3 linked regions of the Homo sapiens genome follow. The protein of the gene in region 2 interacts with the protein of the main gene of each other region in a pairwise test. Each region holds a gene or a part of one and is shown on either strand. Other genes may lie near its edges.

Region 1 (7,723 bases), on a different chromosome or scaffold from region 2:
GCATAGTAAAAAAATATGAAGGAACAAACATTAATGATGTTAGTAATACTATAAATCTAGGAATGGGATTATGTAAGCCTTTCAGAGCTACATGATATGTCTTCATACTATTTTACTTTTTTTTTATAAGCATATACTTGGCCAGCGTGGTGGCTCATGCCTGTAATCCCAGCACTTTGGGAGGCTGAGGTGGGCAGATCACAAGGTCAAGAGATCGAGATCATCCTGGCCAACATGGTGAAACCCTGTCTCTACTAAAAATACAAAAAAAAAAAAAAAAAAAAATTAGCTGGGCGTGGTGGCACGTGCCTGTAGCCCCAGCTACTTGGGAGGCTAAAGCAGGAGAATCGCTTGAACCCCAGGAGGCGGAGGTTGCAGTGAGCCGAGATGGTGCCACTGCACTCCAGCCTGGCGACACAGCGAGACTCCATCTCAAAAAACTAAATCAATAAAAATAAAATAAATTTAAAAAAAAAAGGCATGTGCTCTTGTAAACCGAGAAAACATAATTTTGTTGTTTTCCTTTAAAAAAAAGTACAGCACGTTTCCTAAGGTCGGGTGAGGTGGCTCGTACCTGCAATCCCAGCACTTTGGGAGGCCGAGGCAGGCGGATCACAAGGTCAGGAGATCGAGACCATCCTGGCCAACATGGTGAAACCCTGTCTCTACTAAACTACAAAAATTAGCTGGGCATGGGGGCGCGTGCCTGTAGTCCCAGCTACTCAGGAGGCTGAGGCAGGAGAATCCCTTGAACCCGGGAGGCAGAGGTTACAGTGAGCCGAGATCACGCCACTGCACTCCAGCCTGGCGAAAGAGCGAGACTCTGTCTTAAAAAACAAACAAACAAAGTACAGCACGTTTCCTTACAATATATTTAAGAAGATAAAAATGTGTTAGAAAAACACTTGGATACTGGACTATAAACGAGCAAATAACATCAACAGACAACTAGTAAGATTATGAAAATTATTCAGTGCACTATCAAAGTAATGAGAATTAGAACATATACCATTTATTGCCTGCTAAATTGAAACAATTTTTTAAAATAATAAAAGTACTCGATGTTGGTAAGGGTGTGATTTTTTTTTTTAAAGCATGTCAGACACTGCTGACAGGAAACAAACTGGTACTATCTCCCATGAAAACAATGTGACAATATGTACCAATAGCCTGAGAAAGATTCCTAATATTTGATCTAACAATTATCTTTTTAGAAATTTTAGAAAAGAATCCATGTGTTAAAGCTCTCTTAAAATGTATCTGGCAGTTGTCTGGTTTTTACTGGACTCCCCCCAGCCCCCTCAAAAAGAAAATAATTCAAAACAACTAAAAACATGCAAAGATATTTCACCAAATCATTAGTTGAAACAATCTAAACACCAACATTAGTGCACAAAAGCAAATTATACAGGCATCAAAAGTAATGTGTTTAACAAACTTAAAAAAAAGCAAAACTCTATGACCTAGCAATTCTACTTACAGAAAAAACACTAGCACGCATACACCAGAAAACATCACAAAGAACTTTCACTGTTGCAAGGGTTGTAACAGTGTAAAATTTTAAACAACCTAACAGCCCACCAATCCAAAAATGGTTAAATCAGCTTTCTCAAACTGTGGTCTCAGGACCCCTGGATGTCCCCAGGAGCCTTTCAGCAGGCTTGTAAGATCCTCGCTTTTCCTGCTACGTATCTGTTCAAGGCTGGTGTTTTCTTCATATGCTTCAACCTAAACCAGATAGCACAACAGACTGAACAGAAGCAAACATGAAAATCCAGCTGTCTTCTATAATGCCAGACATTAAAGTGATTCGCAAAAATTTGAAACAATGCCACGCTCCTCTTCTAAGTTTTGTTTTAGAAAATGGTTACTTTTCACTAAAAAATTATTTAATACATGAGTCTGTGATTTTTAAATGAATAAAACATTTTCAATTTTCTGAGTTTTAATTTCCAAAATGGTAAATATACTGCAGCATTAGGAACCAAAAACTCTATTGGTCCTCAATAATTTTTAAGCGTAATTATCCCCAATCATAATGTTAAATGAACTGTAGCACTATTCTATCATGTAACATTATGATTGAGGATAATTAATGCGGATTTGGCTTTATCTGTAATATAACTGTTTCAAAAGATACTTTGCTCATGTATAATCAAGAAGTCATTTTTATGAAGCTTTTTAAAAACATGGGGAAATGCTTACAACGTAATTTAAATCAAGGAAAGCAGACAATCCAACGATATAAAATCTCATCTCAAGAAAATGCACAGGGGAAAAAAAGACTCAAAGGAAAAAAGTCAAAATATTATAAGTAATTGATTACTATTACATGGTGGAATTATGATTGATCATTTTTCCTTATTCTTTATTCTATTTTTTCAATTTTTGCCACTAAGCATGCGGTTTAATATCCAGGAGAGGAAAAAAAGGAAGAAATTAGGCGAAAAATTATATATAGTTCTACTGGATTAAACCATTAAACTCCCGCCAACTCAAGAGACGACAAGCTCAAGTGAATAAATGGAGGAATCTGATTGAATCAACAAAGTGCCTATTTTTTGAATTGAAAAGATTAACTTAATATCAAATGTATGGACTGGTTTTCATACAAGTCAAACTAATAAGAAAGAACATCCTTAGTCTGGAACATAATATTTGCAATCACGATAGTACAAATAAGAGTTAAAAATAAGGTCCTCTTTTGGAGTTCTCAAAAGTACCAAAGGAAAGGCAGCGGGAAAGACGGCCACTGCATCCTTCTGGTCTCTAACCAAGAGAAAATGCATGGGTGCGGGAATGGACAGTGCGAGAGCACCGGCGGCGATGAGACTCCTCTGCGGGGACCGAGCCTCTGCCACTCCTGAAGAACCACAGTCCCCTCCGCAGTCGCAGCCCCTCCCCAGGCGGGACGGCGGCGCCAGGGCGCTTCTCCCTCCGTCCGCTGGGGTCTCTCCCCCAGGAGCGCCGAACACTCCGGCGGCCCGGGAGCGGGGAACCGGGCAAACAGCCGCCGTGATTGCCCTCCCGGTCCAGTCCGGTCTGGCCCTTCAGGCTCCAGGAGGGGACATCAGATTGGAGGGCCAGGGTTCCCCGGCCAGCTCCGGGGGCTCGGAAAAGGAATCGGTCGGGGCCCAGGCTCTGTCCCCAGAGGAAGAGGGCCAGACCCAGCGCCCAGGTCGGCGGGTCCAGCGGTCACCCCGCCCCCCTGTGGGAACAGCAGGGCTGAGGGGAGGCCGAGACGACCGGTCACGGGGGGCTCTTACCTCCCTACAGCCCCTGCGGAGCTTTTTGGGAACTCGACACGACGTCGCGCTGAGGAGTGAAGAGCTACCCCGGCCGGGAGTCCTGGGAGTGCCAGATCCCGGCTCAGGGCTTCTTTCCCCGCCCCACCGGGCAGCGCAGAGAGCGCAGGCGCAGAGGACGCTTTCCTCTTCGGCTCACACGCCCCCTCCCTCGGCATCCGCGGCCGTCTCCAGGCCCGGGGCGCTTGCGCACTACGACGCAGGTTCCGAGCCAAGGGCACTAGATTTCTTACCGGAAGTGCCTGAGTGGGTTGTTGGGTGACGGGGACGCCTGATGATTCGACCTTAGGTCGGGACTCGGTTCTCCACTCGACTGCGGGATCGGGAGGCCACTCGCGTCAGTGTCTGACTTCCTTTACCCTTCGCTAACCTAGAGGCAGCTTCCCCGGCTCCAGCCTTAGCCCTTTGCTGAGCCTGCGCGGCGTTCCGGTCTCTACTGGACAGACCCGCCTTCCCGGCAGCGGGCTAGGCCTGCTCTCCGCGCTGCTGGCCCCTCGGAAAACATAACTTTTTGTTTACTTCAAACTGATTTTACAACACGCTGCCCCCCCGCCTCCCCCGCTTCCCCCGCTTCCCCTTCCTCCTCCCGGCAGCAATAAAAATGCTCCCAGCCAACGCCGAGCTCCAAGCCCCTCCAGCTGACTGGACATTCCCAGCCACACTTTCCTTCCCTTCGCTGCGTTAGTTCTGCATTTTTATTTTAAAGCAGCTGGTAGAACAGCTGTCTCCCTGTCTAAAAGCAAAAGCTGACTTATCTGATGTAGAAATAAAATGTCACTCACTTGATGTATATTTGCTTGTTGAGTTTTGCTATTTTTACCACAAGTTTCCTATAAATTTAAATGAGACCCGGCGCGGTGGCTCACGCCTGTCATCCCAGCACTTTGGGAGGCCGAGGCGGGAGGATCGCTTGAAGTCAAGAGTTCCAGACAGGCCTGGGCAACATAGCAAGACCCTGTCTCTACTAAAAATGAAAATGAAAAAATTAGCCAGGCGTGTTGGCGCGTGCCTGTAGTCCCAGCTACTGGCTGGGAGTCTGAAGTGGGAGGATCACTTAAGCCCAGGAGGTCAAGGCTGCAGTGAGCTCTGATGGCAACACTGCATTCCAGCCTGAGCAACAGAACCAGACCGTGTCTCTAAAAAAATAAAAAATAAAAACAAGGGAAGAGACATACATGTGGGATCAGATACAGACAGATACAGGGAAAAAGCAGTTCCTCAAAGGTTAAACAGCTCACAGTTCATACTGATCTTTCAAAAATCGCAAGAATTGGCCGGGCGCAGTGGCTCACGCCTGTAACCCCAGCACTTTGGGAGGCCGAGGCAGGCGGATCACCTGAAGTCAGGAGTTCGAGACCAATCTGGCCAACATGGTGAAACTCCGTCTCTACTAAAAATACAAAAATTAGCTGGGTGTGGTGGCGGGCGCCTGTAATCCCAGCTACTTGGGAGGCTGAGGCAGGACAATCAGGACCATTGAATGAACCCAGGAGGCAGAGGTCACAGTGAGCCAAGATCGAGCCACCACACTCCAGCCTGGGTGACAGAGCAAGGCTCCGTCTCAAAAAAGAAAAAAAAAAAATTGCAAGAATTATAATTTTTCGAGTATTCCAGCCACATGTGATTTGTGATGAAAGATTTGAGAATCAGGGTTCGCATCTTAAATCTGCAGTTTACAACTATAGTTCCTGATCTTTGAAAGATACTTAATCTTTAACCTTGGTTTTCCTAAACAACAAAATGAAATAGCCAAACTTTTGATTGCCTAAAGTAATGTGTGTATTGAGCATCTGCTTTGTGACAGTGTGTTAGATGCTTTGCTTACGTTATCTCATTTAATCCTAAGAATAATTCTACAAACTACAGTATGCCTTTTTCCTACTATGTGTTAGGCATTGTTCACAGATAAAATAAAATGGGGCCACTGCCCATGGGGAACCACAGTCTAGTAGCAGAGACTCACATATACAAATGCATACTGGGGACAGAAGTATTTATACGGTAAAGTGTGAGGGTAAAGAGAATAGAAAAAAGACACAAACACCTTAAATAGATCAATGGGGAAAGTATATACAATGGTCAGTTCACAAAATATGAAATTTAAATGCCTACTACACATTTTACCAATCAATATTCAAAGTCATTAATAATAAACAGAGACAAAAAAGAGGTTGTCTGGCATCTAATTACCCAATCTGTTTAAAATGTGAATAAACTCGATTGGTGACAGAAGAGTGAAGTGGACACTTATACCCTGGGAGGGATATAAATTGGGACAAAGATTTTGGAAAGTTATTTGTCAAATCATATCAAGAACCTTATGAGTGTTCACATGACCCAATTTGATCATTTCTCTTTTGGAAGTTATAAGAAGGTAGTCCAGAAGACGAAGATCTCTATGGAAAGATACTTAACCATAGTAAGTAAATTGATAAAAGTCGAAAATCCACCATTAAGAGAATGGTTAAAATAATTACTGCATGTATGTGATTAAAACTATTAAAATTATGTTTACAAAGAATTTTTAATGGCCTGAGGAAATTACCTCATGAAAAAACATTTTAAATATTTAAAAATATTTAACATTGCCTATGTAGTATGAGGTCAGCTATAGTATACAATGTATGTAAAAGAGTGAAGAAAGTATATCAAAATGTTGATAGTAGTCATGTCTATCTGATTAGAATGTAGATGTTATTATCCTGGACAGTCTACATTTTCTACAACATCTATATATTACCTTTATATTCTGGGGAAAAAGAAAAAAACCTCTAATGTAACAAGTGTGATAAGTTGACCAGGAAACCTAAGAATCCATTTCCCCTGTCATTTCAAGTATGGTCTTTAGAGTCTGATTACCTGAATTTGAATTCTAATTCTATAACCTATTAGTTGTGTGGCCTAAATTTTCTAAGCTTGATGCTCCTGTAGTCAAATGCTAATAGAACTAATACATTGATTGAGATAATCCACATAAAGTACTTAACTGAAGCACTGACTGTAAATGATGAATAACTGTTATTCTTTTTTTTTTCTTTTTTTGACAGGATCTTACTATATCACTCAGGCTGAAATGCAGTGGTTGGATCATGGCTCACTGCAGCCCCAACTCCTGGGGCCCAAGTGATCCTCCTACCTCAGCCTCCAGAGTAGCTGGGACCACAGGCGTGCATCACCATGCCCAGATAATTTTTATTTTTATTTTTTTAAAGACAAGGTTTCACTATGTTGCCTATACTGGTCTCAAACTTCTGGGCCCAAGCAATCCTCCCAATTAGAATTCAAATTCAGGTAATCAGGTAGTCAACCTCCCAAAGTGCTGGGATTACAGACATTAGCCACTGTGCCAGCCTAACAATTGCTATTCTTGATGGTTATATTTCTTTTTATAAATTGATCAGTTACATCCATGTTGTTATATCAGTAGCCTATGAATTTGGCTAATGCAAGTATAAGTTCCCTGGAGCACAATTACTTGCAAATACATTTTAAAACTGAATTTCTTAGTCTACTAAACTGAGAATAAGATACAGGGACTTGATGACCACTCCACATGTTTGTCACTATATGAAGACTCGTTTGCTCTGTTTTTGTTTCTGTTTTTGTTTTTTAAGGAGAATTAATAAGTTTGTTCATATAAAATTTGTAGCCTTTGATTACCTTTTAATGCCAAATGTCTACTAAAAATTTAATCTGCTAACAAAGCAATTGCAATACTTTTAGTAGATGTTTAGAATTATAATAACCTTTCCTAATTATGCTTTGAAAGAGTATTTAATTTGGGTTCCACAAAACTTCTGATCTATAAAGTAGTAAAAATAGATGAAATCAACCAACAAACCAAAGTTCAAATCAATGACTACTACTTTAGCCCAATAGTTCTCTGTGGAGGTGAGGGGTGATTTTGCCTCCCAGAGGACGTTTGACAATCTCTGGAGGCATTTTTGGTTGTCACCACTGAAAGAATGCTACTGATATCTAATAGATACAGGCCAGGGATGCCGCTAACTGTCTTGCAATTCACAGGAGAACCCCCAACAACAAAGAAGTTTTCAGCCTAAAATATCAACAGTGCCAAGGTTGAGAAACCCTGATTTAGCCAGTGAGTGGTTTAAAGCTAGTATATTTCTTCCAATTCCTAGTAAACAGTTCCTTTTTTTTTTTTTTTTCTGATGACCACAGCGGCACAAATGTGAGTTCAGAAATTCAGAACTGGGTTTTGAACTTCTACATAAGGCCCTATACCAATGAAAATTAAACTTTGTACCAAGTAGTACCCAAAGTTAACTAGATTAGAGATAAAAAATCTACAATGACCAGTTTTATGGAGCAGACAGCTGGTCAGTTGTACTCTGGCACAGAAAAATGCTCCATTCCTATTGTTCAGTTGCACCAGACACACGTATCATCACTTATTA
Region 2 (7,660 bases):
TTTCTATAGAGACAGGATTTCACCATGTTGCCCAGGCTGGTTAAACTCCTGGACTGAAGCAATCTGCCTGCCTCAGCTGCCAAAGTCCTGGGATTATAGAGGTGAGCCACCATACTCAGCCTGTATTTTTTTTAAATGCAAGTAAACATGTAAATTTATTTTCCTTGTTAATGTTCTATTTGTTTAAAAAGTATATGCATAACTCCAAAACTTGCAGCTGGAATAAGTCAGAGAGGACTCAACTTTAAAATACATATTCCTAAAACTGACATTAATTTGGTTCTGTTTTAGTCACCATAATACATTTATTTTAAAATTTCAAATAGCATTTAAGATATTTTTTAATCAAAAGGGAGTGTATTTTTTTTTAATTTGAGAAATACCAATAGGCAGACATATCTAAACAAAAATAGTTCTTACTGATACAAAGAAATAAATGACTGGGTTCACCCTGGTTTAGGTATTTTGACATTAACATCTGAATAGCACTTTTCCTCATGAGACTTCTTTGATTCAGCCTCTCCTTGATTTCACATTTGTACTTATAGATTTATCATTGTCTTCTGCTGATTAATAATACCAGTAGGACAAGAGCTTTTAACTGGCTTCAGTAAGTTCATGAACCACCTGAAATTGTTTGAAAATTTTTGGAATTAAGTGTTATTGGGCTACAAAGTGTCAATTTTGGAAAAACTGCATCCAAATATCATAAGTTAGAGAGTGTAGTGTTAGGCATCATAAGGCCTTACATGCCTATGTGTGTTATATCCACAAACTTTCACCATCTCTTCCCATAAGATAAAGAAAGATTTTTAAAAATGAATTAGACATGGGTTATCTATAATACTTATACCCCAAAGCTTGATGACATGTTATATTTGTGAATAGAGTGGCTTTTAGATCACCAGTTACAAAACTCTAAGGAAGAGATTCAAATTAAAATGTTACGGTAACAACTTTTTAAACTGAAAATATGAAAATCAGAGGTCTACTTTACATAAGGGAGCTTAAAGACTACAAATAACAGTAGTCATAACAAAATGTCTCCTATAATAAAGTAAAAAGGACAAAGGCTAGGATTTTTAAGCACATTTATGTATTATACATCTTAGAGTTTATTAAATGCTGACATATTATACAAGGGATTTACAGGCCAAAGTCATGTCATGTAAGAAATAGTAGAAGAACTGAAAATGTTTATCTTGGAAGAGAAATACTCCGAATAAATATGAGCAGTCTTCAAATACCTCATGTGGAAAGAGGAACAATTTATTCTGTGTAATTCCTAAGGACAGAACCAGAACCAGCGCATGTAAATTACAGGGAAACAAATGTCAGCTCAATAAAATAGACTTAGGAAGAAATATGCACACCGTACACCACCTAGCAAGGATTGTGGATCACTTAGCAGGGTTGGCATAAAGGGAAGTTCTGGACTGAATTTAGACTAGTTCAAGACTTCTTTCAAATTCATAATTCAAAGTCCATCAATTAGAAATAAGCTTATGGCCGGGTGCAGTGGCTCACGCCTGTAATCCCAACACTTTGGGAAGCCAAGACAGGCAGACCGTCTGAGGTCAGGAGTTCGAGACCAGCCTGGCCAACATGGTGAAGCCCCATCTCTACTAAAAATACAAAAATTAGCCAAGCGTGGTGGCAGGCACCTGTAATCCCAGCTACTTGGGAGGCTGAGGCAGAAGAATCACTTGAACCCGGGAGGTGGATGTTGCAGTGAGCTGAGATCACGCCACTGCACTCCAGCCTGGGTGACAGAGCAAGACTTTGTCTCAAAAAAAAAAAAAAAAAAAAAAAAAAAGAAATAAGCTTATTACAAAATAAGCCTTTCTTAAATATATTTTCTAAACAAAATTGGTAATATAATTGTAGAAAATGCTATCATTCTTCCTTTAAAGTCAATTACCATTTATCAACCAACCTTGAGTAAATTTAACCTTAAATATCATGTCAACAATATATATATTAAACAGAATAATAATCTTTATGCAAATATTCCTGAGTGTCTAGCTTTATAAAGCAAAACATACTGAGAGACCACATTGACTATAAACAAATATTATTCAGATCAAAAATGAAAGAAAGACAAATATTTTGATAGGCCACTCAGAAAAATCTCAAATCCTGGCTTCACTCAATAGTATACACTACACAAGCTAATATGAATCACATTTAAGTACAATGAACTTCATTACCTCTGAGCTAGCATATTGTGACTGCAATTTTTTGCATTCATCTTTGAGTTTTTCAGATTCTCGCTCACGTTCCAAGGTCATGTTATCCATTAGTGTTTGAACTTGGACCAGTTCTTTCTTTAGCACGGCAACATCTTCTATACCAGGTCTCTGAAGCTGTGAAACAACACATTTTAATTAAAAATTAAAGTGAAAAACTAAAATAATACACATTTTTAGAATCATTTCACTACAAAGGAATCAAAAGGGAAACAATCATCAATATCAATTTTTAGACTTCAAACATTGAACACTGATATCTTCTCCCACAATAAGCCACTTCCTCTTCCCATCCTACCTCATATTTAATAGTATTAATACTCAAGGTGCTGTATAGTAAATTCACAATTATCTTTACTACTTTATTTGTTTTCCTTCCCTTCACAAACTACATCTATTGGTCATAACAGTGACTTGAAAATGCTACATTCCTTCTTTTTCTATCCTACAAAACTGGTAATAAAAATGAAGGAGCAAATGAAAGCATAGAGTTTGCTCCAGGTTGGATGTAGTTAATTTATATATTTATTGAGAGCTAAATAAAGGAAAGAAAGTCAAGGACAGATCCAAGATTATTAAGTCTTGGGAGAGTATTAGAGATGTATGGTTCCAATAACAGAAATACAGTAATGAGGAAACATGATTACTTTGATTTTATACTTGTTGAATTTGAAATTAAAGCTAGAAATTCAACACAAAGTACCCTAAAAGCAGATGGATTTATAAAACAAACATGCAAGAGAAGACCAGGATCAGAGATGCAGATATGAAAACTACTAAAATGACAGATGATATTTAGATAGAAACAACAAAAATGTTAAGGTAGTAAGTTACGTATCATAACATTCCATTTTTATTTTAAAAATCATATACAGAATATATATGCAGGTGGTAGAATATAGGGAATTGCTTATTTCCTGATTTCACTCAAATTATATTTTTAAACATTTTCCTTCAGGGTATGTATTTTATTTTTAATTTAGAAAGGTATAAGAGTACATCTCAATAAATAATTCCTAAATTACCAGTTCCGTCTTCAGATCTTGAATTACAGTTGCCTCTTTGTTTAATTCTTCTGTCAGACGTGTCACTTTTTGTTCAGCAGCTTCTCGAAGACTCCTTTCTTCATCATACTTTGACTTTATATCTAATTAAAGATAGTTATATAAATATTAGTTTAAGGGGAGGACAGTTTTATAAGTTTCCATATATTACTCTGCATATCTGTATATCACTCTAATTCAAATTCACATTCCTTAGATAACCATAAATATATACAGTAAATTTATACTTCTAATTACATGAAATGAACTTAAAATTAACTGTCTACATAAATTCCACTCAACATTAAGTTAATAATTAGCATTTTAATGTACTTAATCACATATTTTACCTAAAAGCACATGTTAAAAACATATATATGTAATAGTATAACCAAGTGTTACATTTATACTACATTATTTACTTCACTTCTTTAAAATGTTCCTTTTTAATCTTTAAGCATGCCACAGAAGAAAATGTATCTTCTCTAAATTTCAAGAAGAATCTACAAAGAAACACCAGTCCTTTGAAGGCAGGCAGCTAGAGGACAAACAAAATAATTTACATAGCAACTCTGAAATCATTAAATTCCATTAATCACCATTGGAAGTCTATCACAAATGCTTTAACACACTAAAATACTATATTTATTGCTAGGGTATATAATGGCAAAAAGGTAATGAGATTGATTTATTGGCTAAAAAATTCTAACTCAATTTACCTGCAATTTCAGTAGCAAGTTGGGCTGCTTTCTGTTCAAATAAGTCTTTCATTTGCTTAATATTAAAATTTTCTGTTTGGGCTTCTTCTAATTGCTGTTCCAAAGACTGTAGTTCTACAAAAAAGTGTCGCAGTTATTCAAATACCATGTTAATTACATATGCTAAATTGTTATTACTTATATTTATTACAGTTGTAAAGATGATCAACTTAAGTTTATTATCCAATTACAAGTAGTATTTTGACACTTCAAGAAATTAAGTATATCTGCTTCACTTAAGGTACAAATCATAATTTACAAACATACACTACAAATGAAATGAATATTTAGAATCACTGCTAAATAATCTATAAATATTTTATTACAAGTTATTTTGATTTCACATTTCACAGTTATTTTCCCATATCCATCAAATGACCAAAAAGGAATACACCCCTTATCTTTTTTTTAAGAGATGGGGTCTCGCTATGTTACGGAGGCTGATCTTAAATTCCTGGGTTCAAGCCATCCTCCCCTATCAGTATCCCAAAGTGTTGGGATTATAGGCATGAGCCACCAAGCCTGGCTCAAAAAGGAAAACATTCTGCTCCTCTGATAAAATTAGTTATAAAGCGGGATGTTGGAAATGGTTAAGATCTCAAGGCCTTTTAATTCATTAAAGTATGCAGTCAACTCCTAATACTTCATCATAAAGAAAATAAACTATCTTACTCTTAATATAGACTTAAAATTTCATTAAACAACCATATTAATGTAATATTCCAGAAGTTTCTTACTTCAAAATATAATGAACTAAAAAAACTAAACTTTTAGTTAACTGATTAAATTATGAAGTTCACATGTAACTCTCTACACCTAGAATATGACCATTATCTTCACTGTTTTAGAGTCATAAAGCATAACCATGAAACAAAATTCATTTGGCAGGCATCAAAGAAAAAGAAAGGAAAACAAATAAGAAGAAAAAGAAAACTGACAAAATATCTGCTTTAAGTAAAGTTACCTGCTGATGAATCAGTCACCAACCCATCAGGTTTGGCCTCCTCAATTAAAACAAAAGACATAAACAAATGAATTAAAAGGAAAAGATAATACTGTTAAAATGGTCAATGTTAAAAAATCTCTGAAAGTCACTTTCTTTCAGGTAAGTAGTAAGATTTTGGTGAAAATTTAAATTTGGTGGTTTCCATTCTTCCAGATCTGTAAGAGACCAGCAGGCAGACTAGCCTAATGATCTAACTTCAGTTTATTAGTTCTAACATAGATTTTTTTGTATGTTAATATATATGAAGTTATTATGGTCATCTTAAATTCCATGAATTCAGTAATAAATAAATAGCACAATTATTGTAATTATAAATATAGATTCTAAAACAAATACTTAAGTCAACTGGCAACATTCAATCGTATTAGTATGTAGCTTTGAAATAACTTCTAACACTAACATAGTTTGCTACATGGATGCTACATATTTTGCTGTCATAAGAACTTGGAGTGTTATCCCCCTCCGCTCAAGCATGTAATACCTGTTAGACCCCATATGTGAGAACTTGGAATGAACTTCTCCTCTCTTCAGTAGTATTACATCAGACCTTATCATACCGCAGATCTGAGCTACTGACCTCAACTACTGGACTTCAAAATACATATTAACCAAAGAGTTTGAAAGATACTTTGAAAGCTTAGGCCATGGCAGGCTGCACTTTTTCAGCTGCTTTCTTTGAGACTGGCAGCTCATGCTGCAATAGGGCCATATCCTATTGGCCTTAGATCTTTGAGTCTCGGCAGCCAACACCTACATCTCCTCTAGCAGCAGGAGATCCCCATTGTCTGGGATCTCCACTGTTTTGGATGCCATCTCTCCAGAGAGACTGCTCATAAAAAAAGGTACACCTCAACCCTTTTAGACTTTACTTTTCACAAAAGCCTGCTTCCATCCTGAGAAAGTGACTAGACTTTAATAATTTTGGAACTCACCCACTATATGGTTAATATACCTCATCTATTGATATTCCCTGTAAGATTTGTTCATGTTATTTCTCTCCCTTTTAAGCACTGTGAACCGAAGAAAATCTCTCTTTGGCAATAAACCATGCAATTCATGAAATCATACTTCAAATCATGCTTCTTATTACAATCAAACAGAACACCTATAATAGTTGAACATTTGCATTAGTTAAAACATGCTATCAAGCTATCACTACTAAAACTTGCATTAGTTAAAACATCCTATCACGGCCGGGCGCGGTGGCTCACGCCTGTAATCCCAGCACTTTGGGAGGCCGAGACGGACGGATCACGAGGTCAGGAGATCGAGACCATCCTGGCTAATATGGTGAAACCCCGTCTCTACTAAAAATACAAAAAATTAGCCGGCCTGATGGCGGACGTGCCTGTAGTCCCAGCTACTAGGAAGGCTGAGGCAGGAGAATGCTGTGAACATGGGAGGCGGAGCTTGCAGTGAGCCGAGATCGCGCGCCACTGCACTCCAGCCTGGGTGACAGAGCGAGACTCTGTCTCAAAAAAAAAAAAAAAAAAAATGCTATCAAACTATCACTACTAAAAAAATTGGCTTTATAAGCATAAATTTTTAATTCAGGACAAGTCAACTTTAAAAGAAGCAGAAATAACAGATTCCATAAGGCTTAATTTGTCACATGTATTAGGAACAAAATAATATACTACCTTGGCATTATTTTTATATTTTAAAGAATTATACCCATCTGAAAGAGTTTAATAAGGCATTTCCTAGTATATCTGACTTTTTGTTTCTCTATACATTGAACTAAGACATACTGATTGCTAAGAACCTTAAGTATTTAAAATATATTTTCCCCAAAAGGTAAATTTCCTGCCAAGGTAACTTACATCTTGCACTGTGGAAAAGTTATTTAAGTGTATTAAATGTGAAATAGTCATCTCAAATGCAGTAAACAATTTCCACTCTGCTTTCAGATACAGAAAAGAATACAGCCCATACTCAATTAATTATTAATGGCATCTATATAAAACATGAGTAAATGAGTTATAAGTAATTTGGATTACTAAAAACTCCTTTAATGTTAACAGAATCACCAATTAGAAAAGCTGAGTAGTAATAAGACTGATTATCTTGTCATTTATTTATTTGTTTTTGTCTTTTTCAGTCCAACTGCCAATTCTTGGTGCAAAGGCTTTAAAAAGCAAACAAGCCTCACTGAAAGTCACAATATGCCAAGATAACATGCAAAGGGATTATTAATTACTTTACAAAAATATTAGAACTATTGCTGAAGGGTAACTACTTTTATTCTTACAAATGATGACTATGGTAAAATTATTTGGTAAAACTTCGTTAATCTTTGATTCTTCCTATAATTTCAGAATAAAATCAATATAATTTCAGCATAAAAATCATAATTAAGGCATTTACTTAGAAAATACACTAAACTATATAGAATCTAAGACATCAAAAAAATCCTATTCAAAGAGAACCACTTTTGATACTGCAGTGATTTTCTTCTGTTTTTCTCTATGTATTATTTTTATGTAAAGTCATACAGAATATGAGTGTGTGTGCATGTATGTACAAATACACATTTTTTAGTTTTTTAAAAACTTAACATTGTTAATAGAACAGGTTTCCCAGTTTTCAATCTTCACTAACATA
Region 3 (7,660 bases), on a different chromosome or scaffold from region 2:
AATCTAGAATATAAATAAAAGTATAAAAGGTAGAATGGTCTAGAATATAAATATGCAAAATGAGGTTAACAGAATTCCTGTTCTACATCACCAAGTCCGATCATTAAATAAAAATTTAAAATGTTAAATATGGCTTGGTCAGAATATATAGAAATAACCATTTTTAGGTTAAAAAAAGAAAGTTTGCTAAACATGAACCAAAGGCTTATATTCACAGATACCCAAGTATTTAGTTCTGTTAATTACATACTTTGTAAGCATTATAATCACTATAATCCATCTCTTTAAAGAGCGAAAGACATTACATTGTTAAAAACAAGGCTGGGCACGGTGGCTCACACTTGTAATCCCAGCACTTCAGGAGGCTGAGGCGGGCGATCACGAGGTCAGGAGATCCAGACCACAGCGAAACCCCGTCTCTACTAAAAATACAAGAAAATTAGCTGGGCATGGTGGTGGGCACCTGTAGTCCCAGCTACTCGCAGAGGCTGAGGCAGGAGAATGGCGTGAACCCGGGAGGCGGAGGTTGCAGTGAGCCGAGATCGCACCACTGCACTCCAGCCTGGGCGACAGAGCGAGACTCTGTCTCAAAAAAATAAATAAATAAATAAAAATAAAAACAAAAGATATTATGCGAAAAAGCTCTCCCAAACTGACCTCATAACTTAAAGGCTTTAAATACTGACCAGGTGGCATTGCCCTACTTGCAAGTTAATCAAATCAGCTTTTATTTACATATATTCAACTTAATTTGAAGGAAAAGAAAAATGAAACAGGATACCCATGAATCAAATAATACACCACACAGATCAATCAGCACAAGTGATCAATAAAGAAAAATGTTTGAAATAAAAAATATGAGAGACTAAAGATTTACTTCAACATGTGCTACTCACATAAAATCCCTGGAACAAAAGAACATCTACAGCCAAATTAACTTACCGTTACAGATTTCAGTGTCATACCATGGTAGGTTCCCATAGTGTCAATTTTGAAGCCTTCCGTTTCTACGAAAAAAAAGAGGCTTATTGTTAAGATTTTATAGATCATGTATCTTATGACCTATAACAAATCTAAAGTAATAATCTACATTGAATGTGATGGTTCAATAATATACAAAGCCTTGAATCTACTATGTAAAATTAAATTACGTACTTGTGAAGATAAAAACTTTAAAAAGGACTCTAGGTTAAAAAATATTAATATATTAAATACAGACCAGCAAGCCTATTGTATAGAAGCTGGTTAAGACTATCTCTGCAATTATGTTCAAAAATTAAGATTGAATACTTTATAACCCCAAATTACTTACTACTAATACTCAATGATAGTACCACTAAAAGCATCTAATACCATGAAAAGACCCAAAGTTATAAAAAGTAGTGTTCCAAAGTTTCAGTCATAAGGCATATACTTATTTTTATATACATACATACATATATATTTTTTCTTTTGAGACAGGGTCTCACTCTGTCACCTAGGCTGGAGTACAGTGGCACTGCAGTTCACTGCAACCTCTTCTCCCATCCCCCCTCCACAGGTTCAAGCAATCCTCCCACCTCAGCCTCCCGAGTAGCTAGGACCACTGGCATGCACCACCACACCCAGGTATTTTTTTGTATTTTTAGTAGAGATGCGGTTTTGCCATGTTGCTCAGGCTGGTCACAAAGTACTGAACTCAAGCAATCCTCCTGCCTCCACCTCCAAAAGTGCTGGGATTACAGGTGTGAGCTACAGCAATCAACCATATTACATATTTTATAGAAAGCAATGTTGTAAATAATGATTGGAGTGCCAGGACAGAATCCCAATATGCCTTTCTGTAAAGGCAAATATTTTAACACATTGCAAGCCTTAAAATCTGTCACAACTGCCCAATTCTGTATTTTAGTGCAAAAGCAGAATAAACAATATATGTGATCAATTGGGGGCAACCCAATTTGGCCCATGGAGGGTGATATTTAGTTTGGGGGCTGTAATTTATCAACCTCTGCTTTATATAATTCATTCCTCAAGAAAAACATTGAATATTATAATGAAAGAATGGACGTAGTCTTTCTATGGCACATATCCAGTGCATGCCTTTAACAACTGAATGAAGTCAGCACACAAAATTCATTGCATCAAGGCAACATATCATTTAAAAAAAACTTAAATGAAGATTTCAGATTATGCTTAAAAATATCATTAACTTCCAGTTGCTTCTACCTAATATTTTCATGAATCAAGTCATGATGAATGAAGATCCCAAGAGGAAGTTACACTGACATTAGTCTCACCTCACAACTGCAGAAATGGTGTTATTGCATTAGCCAGAATACCACGTAGACTATCACAAAGTAAGTCCTCCCATCATTGCTCAAAATTTGTTTCCAAGTTCTCAATGTACATACACATTTATAACTTGGGAAAAATGACTTAACATATAGAATCTCTACTTTAAATTATATAAAAACAAAAGCAGTATGAATAACAGCAAACATTTATAGATAATTTACTTACATATCAGATACTATTCTGGGAATTCAATATTTATTAACCAGTCCAATACTCACAATAATGGTAAGAGACAGGCACTATAATAACATTTTAATTATACACAGGAGAAAACTAAGGCAGAATGCAGTTAAAGTAACATTAAAATTCACACAAAAAGTTACTACGACATAAGCTATCTGGATCCAGAATCCATGCTATTAACCAGGGGTTGGCCAACTTTTTTTCTGTAAAGGGCCAGATAATATTTTTAGGCTTTGTAGGCTACACAGTCTCTACTGAAACAATTCAATACTGATGTCACAAAGCCAAAGCAGCCATATATAAAATACATAAATGAATGAGTGTGGTTGTGTCCCAACAAAATGTTATTTAAGAAAAATTGCAGTGGGTAAGATCTGGTCTGTAGACATTACTTTGCCAACCCTTACCCTTAAACATCAGGCCACACTGCCTCTCAAGTTCAACACAACCACACTAAGGGGAAGATAAGAATTAAGCAACTTGCCTTCTTTTCCTTTGAATCTTTCCTGATCGTATCTGTTATAGGCAGCTGGGATAGGCTGTTTGGTGCGCAAAGTGGGATCCTGTAAAAAAATTAATTATGAGTTACTTGTTAATATTTTTAAATGTCACTTATTTAATGTGCTGGAGTGCAGTAGCATGACCATGGCTCACTGCAGCCAAGACCTCCTGGGCCCAAGTGATCCTCCCACCTCAGCCTTCCAAGTAGCTGGGACCACAGGCATGCACCACCACACTCAGCTAATTTTTTTTTTTTTATAAAGACAAAGTTTCACCATGCTGCTCAAGCTGGTTTTGAATCCCAGCCTCAGGTGATCGACCTCAGTCTCGCAAAGTGCTAAGATTACAGGCATGAGCCACCATACCTGGCTAAAGTACCTTTACGACATAATACTCTTCCCTGCAATTATGATTGTTTTAACAAAACAAAAAAACCCAAATTATTAATCCTTAAATAAACATGAAAGCCATGATGATTAATCCATTATAAACAGAGTAAGACTGAAGACGTATTTTTTTTAAATAATTAGAAAAGGCTGTCAGTCTAATGATGCATTATTTAATCACAAATACTTTATCAAAACTCACAATGTTTAACAAACTAAAAACACATATTTAGGAATATTCCCAAAGCTACTTGGAAAATTCATGAAGACTGAAATACTTTTCATTTTATTATGATAGGATTCTATATCAAATATTATGCCAAATAAAATATACTTATCAATACCTATCAAGAATGATAAGTATATGCTTACTTCACACTAGGCATATACTTCTATAGTCAAATGCCAAACATTAAAACCTTCAAGTATTCTAACGATTATATAAATATACAGAAAGAATAATCAGTCACAAATGGTAAAACTGTTTTAAGGTTTGACATGTTTCCTATCAACAGCTATTCAAAATGTCAACAAATTCATAATTCTAAGTACCTTGTGCTTTGCCATCATAGCTCTTACTCCACTACTTTAAAAAAAAAAAAACATCTAATAAGTAGGGAACTGCTGAGAGATCTAGGTTACATGGTCGTTTGAGAATCTAACTAAACCCTGAGGATCTGAGGTGGAACAGTTTCATTCCAAAAACCTCCCCCTGGTCCATGAAAAAACTGTCTTCTACGAAACTGGTCCCTGGTGCCAAAAAGGTTGGGGACTGCTGTATTAGACTATAAGCTCAAAGAAAGTAGGGACTATAATCTTTCTCACTATTGTATCTCAAGATCATTAGCAGACTTCCTAATAGAAGGCACTTAAGTACTTGATGGAGAGTCAACTAAAAGTATTTATCTAATTATCAACAAAAGCCTACCATCTTTAAAAGTTAAATTCCAACAATTTCATGAGCAAATAAAACTACTACAAAGTAGTTGCAAAGGCTGTATTAGTACTCTAATACATTTCAATGTGCCTTTTAAAACTTGAAACAGAGTTTTAAAAATATAGAAGGTTTTCTGGAAGGCCGAGGTGGGCAGATCACCTGAGGTCAGAAGTTCAAGACCGGCCTGGTCTTGAACAGGACGAAACCCCATCTCTACTAAAAATACAAAAATTAGCTGGGTGGGGTGGCATGCGCCTGTAATCCTGGCTACTTGGGAGGCTGAGGCAGAAGAATCGCTTGAACCCAGGAGGCGGAGGTTGCAGTGAGCCAAGATCGTGCCACTGACTCCAGCCTGGGCAACAGAGTGAGACTGTCTCAAAAAAAAAAAAAAAAAAAAAAAAAATTATAAATTTTCTATTTATAGAATCTTCTATTTTCTATTGCAGAAAATAGAAACAATTTCATTTGTATGTTTTATTCCTTTGTTGAATCATATGAAAATAGCTGGAAGGATTTTCAACAAAATTAGAGGATGTTTGAATTTAAATATAGGCTATATGTCATACGTGAAATTTACTTTGGGAGGGTCTTAAGTGGCACTTCAAAGAGAAGGCAGTCAACTCTCAGAGCAGCTGAAATGGAGGTACAATTAAAGGACAGCATGGCTGGTGATCAAGAGAAATACATTCACCAAGATGTAATAGATACAATGCCAAAAAGAACCCCAAACTGGGAGTTAACAGGGATTTATGTTATTAACAATGGTTAGCAATTGTCCCAAGCAACAATGAGTAGGCCAGCCACAGTTTACCTAAAATAAATAGAGGGCTTTCCCTAATTAACCTTTTTCAGACTCTGACCCAGGTATATTAAGAATTACTGCTCCAGTTAAGAATTACTGCTGAAGTAAGTAACTTTTAATGTTGGGGAGGGCTTTCACATCTTTCAGATATGCTAAAGGAGCAAAAGGTTTAGAATCCACTGATTTTAAAATGTGAAGATGTCTTCAACGTTACTACACTGCAATATAAGTGGCAACTTCATTAAATCTACTGTAAAGCAGTAAAGCATTCTTACCACAGGTGCTGCATTTGGGGCAGGTCGCTGTTCAGGTGCACGCCCTTCTTCTCTGGCTTTTACAGATTGAAGAATTGCAAAAATGTTCTTGGAAAAATTCTAAAATATAAATGGATTTTAATTAAGCCCACTTTAAATATACAATAGTAAATTTAGTTGATAATTTAAGACTAAGTTATCTTACTATCGATTCTTCCCTACTACATATGTCATAAGGTATCATTATTATACACATATGTAAAAACCAACCACTACTAAGATATTGATCCAGAGACTGATTATTGTAAATCCCATGGTATTCATTTCATCATTTTCATTTTACTTAAACTGCTACATTCGGGAGGCCAAGGCAGGCAGATCACGAGGTCAGGAGATGGAGACCACCCTGGCTAACACAGGTGAAACCCCGTCTCTACTAAAAATACAAAAAATTGGCTGGGCGTGGTGGCAGGTGCCTGTAGTCCCAGCTACTCGGGAGGCTGAGGCAGGAATATGGTGTGAACACGGGAGGCGGAGTTTGCAGTGAGCCAAGATCATGCCACTGCACTCCAGCCTGGGCAATAGAACGAGACTCCATCTCAAAAAAAAAAAAGAAAAAAAAAACTGCTACAAATGTATTCATATTCTGCATCTGTTCAAATATATAACCAGAAAGCAAGTTAAAATCTAAATAAGGCCGGGCACGGTGGCTCGTGACTGTAATCCCAGCACTTTGGGAGGCAGAGGCAGGTGGATCATGAGGTCAGGAGATTGAGGCCATTCTGGCTAATACGGTGAAATCCCGTCTCTACCAAAACTACAAAAAATTAGCTGGGCGTGGTGGTGGACACCTATAGTGTCAGCTACTTGGGAGGCTGAGGCAGGAGAATGGCGTGAATCCAGCAGGTGGAGCTTGCAGTGAGCCGTGATAGCGCCACTGCACTCCACCCTGGGAGACAGAGCAAGAATCCGTCTAAAAAAAAAAATCTAAATAAAATATAAATACATTTGTCAAAAGAGGCTTCTAGTTCAGAAAAAAAAATAATCAACTACTACATCCTCCTGTTAAACTCCAGTGCTAATTTCAGATTGCTACATATGAGTTTTGAGATACTATCAGAAGTCAATGTACACTTTTCAAAGATGTGTAAGTTGGAAAGTACAAGTACAAATGCTCTTCAACTCACAATGCAATTACATGCTGATCAAAAGTCAACACAGCTAACTAATCTGACGACTCTTTCCTTCATGAAATATTCTTCCTTCATGCTATGGATTGAATGTCTCCTCTAAAACCCATGTTGAAATTTTATTCCATTCTAATAGTATTAGGAGGTGGAGCCTTTAGGAGGTGATTAGGTAGGTCATAGGGCTCCACCCTTACGAATGGATTAATGTTGTTATTGCAAAAGTGGGCTCGGATTCCCGAAAGAGTAAGTTTGGCCCCATTTCTCTCTGTGTCTCATTTGCTTGCTTGCTTGCTTGCTTGCTTGCTTGCTTGCTTGCTTGCTTCTGCCTTCTGCCATGAAATGACCCTCACCAGATGCCACTGCTATGCTCTTGGATTTCCCAGCCTACAGAAATATGAGAAATAAATTTCTTGTCTTCATAAATTACCCAGTCTGTGATATCCACAGCAGCACAAAACAGACAAAGATACTTGGCCTCTGAGATGCTACTCTCTCTTGGTTTTACCCCTAATGTCTGACAGTTCCTTTGGGGCTCTTCTTATGCTGCCTATCAATCACTTAACATTTGAAGGAATATGTAGTAAGAATCTACTCTAAGCCAAACACCTTGCTTGGCACTTGGGTACAATGATGATCAAAAAAGACATGGTCGCTGCCCTCATGAACCTCAAATACAACATAATTTCTCTTCTTTAAACAAGGCATTCTGTTTCCTTGGCTGGGACCACTCTTCCCACCTTACCCCTCTCACCTCCCTCACTAGTTTTTGTTCTTTAGGTATCACTCCTCTTTACTCTCAACTAAGTTAACTGCCCTTGCTGGGTGTCTGCCCTATAATGTACGTAATAATTACCGCTTATTTAATATTGACTTCTGCTGAAGAGTATAACTTCTGTGAGAGCTAGGACCAATGCACCTCTGGTCAGTGTTTAGCACTTGCCTAGTTTGTAGATGTTAAATAAATACTATACAAATAAATATGTATATAAAATGAGAGGCTGCTTGAAACATAACTATTATCACTATACCAGTTGCAGTGCTAACTAGTTCCTATAATTCTCTGGAGCAGC

Evidence for each region. Proteins that work in one complex are often made in the same cells at the same time.
Region 1: the proteins of EEA1 (region 2) and ZFYVE16 interact in binary tests that used the Homo sapiens proteins (3 or more experiments, as listed by UniProt).
Region 3: the proteins of EEA1 (region 2) and CDC73 interact in a two-hybrid assay, tested with the Homo sapiens proteins (one study listed by BioGRID).

Annotation. Positions count from the first base shown.
Region 1 is NC_000005.10:80,403,697-80,411,419, reverse strand, and holds the start of ZFYVE16 (zinc finger FYVE domain-containing protein 16), read right to left. Parts: upstream 3,357-7,723; 5' UTR 3,267-3,356; intron 1,729-3,266; exon of another isoform or gene 1-1,728.
Region 2 is NC_000012.12:92,848,901-92,856,560, forward strand, and holds part of EEA1 (early endosome antigen 1), read right to left. Parts: intron 5,055-7,660; coding exon 5,015-5,054; intron 4,126-5,014; coding exon 4,012-4,125; intron 3,397-4,011; coding exon 3,275-3,396; intron 2,367-3,274; coding exon 2,211-2,366; intron 1-2,210. UniProt on the Homo sapiens protein: Binds phospholipid vesicles containing phosphatidylinositol 3-phosphate and participates in endosomal trafficking.
Region 3 is NC_000001.11:193,145,727-193,153,386, reverse strand, and holds part of CDC73 (parafibromin), read right to left. Parts: intron 5,521-7,660; coding exon 5,422-5,520; intron 3,084-5,421; coding exon 3,005-3,083; intron 1,008-3,004; coding exon 943-1,007; intron 1-942.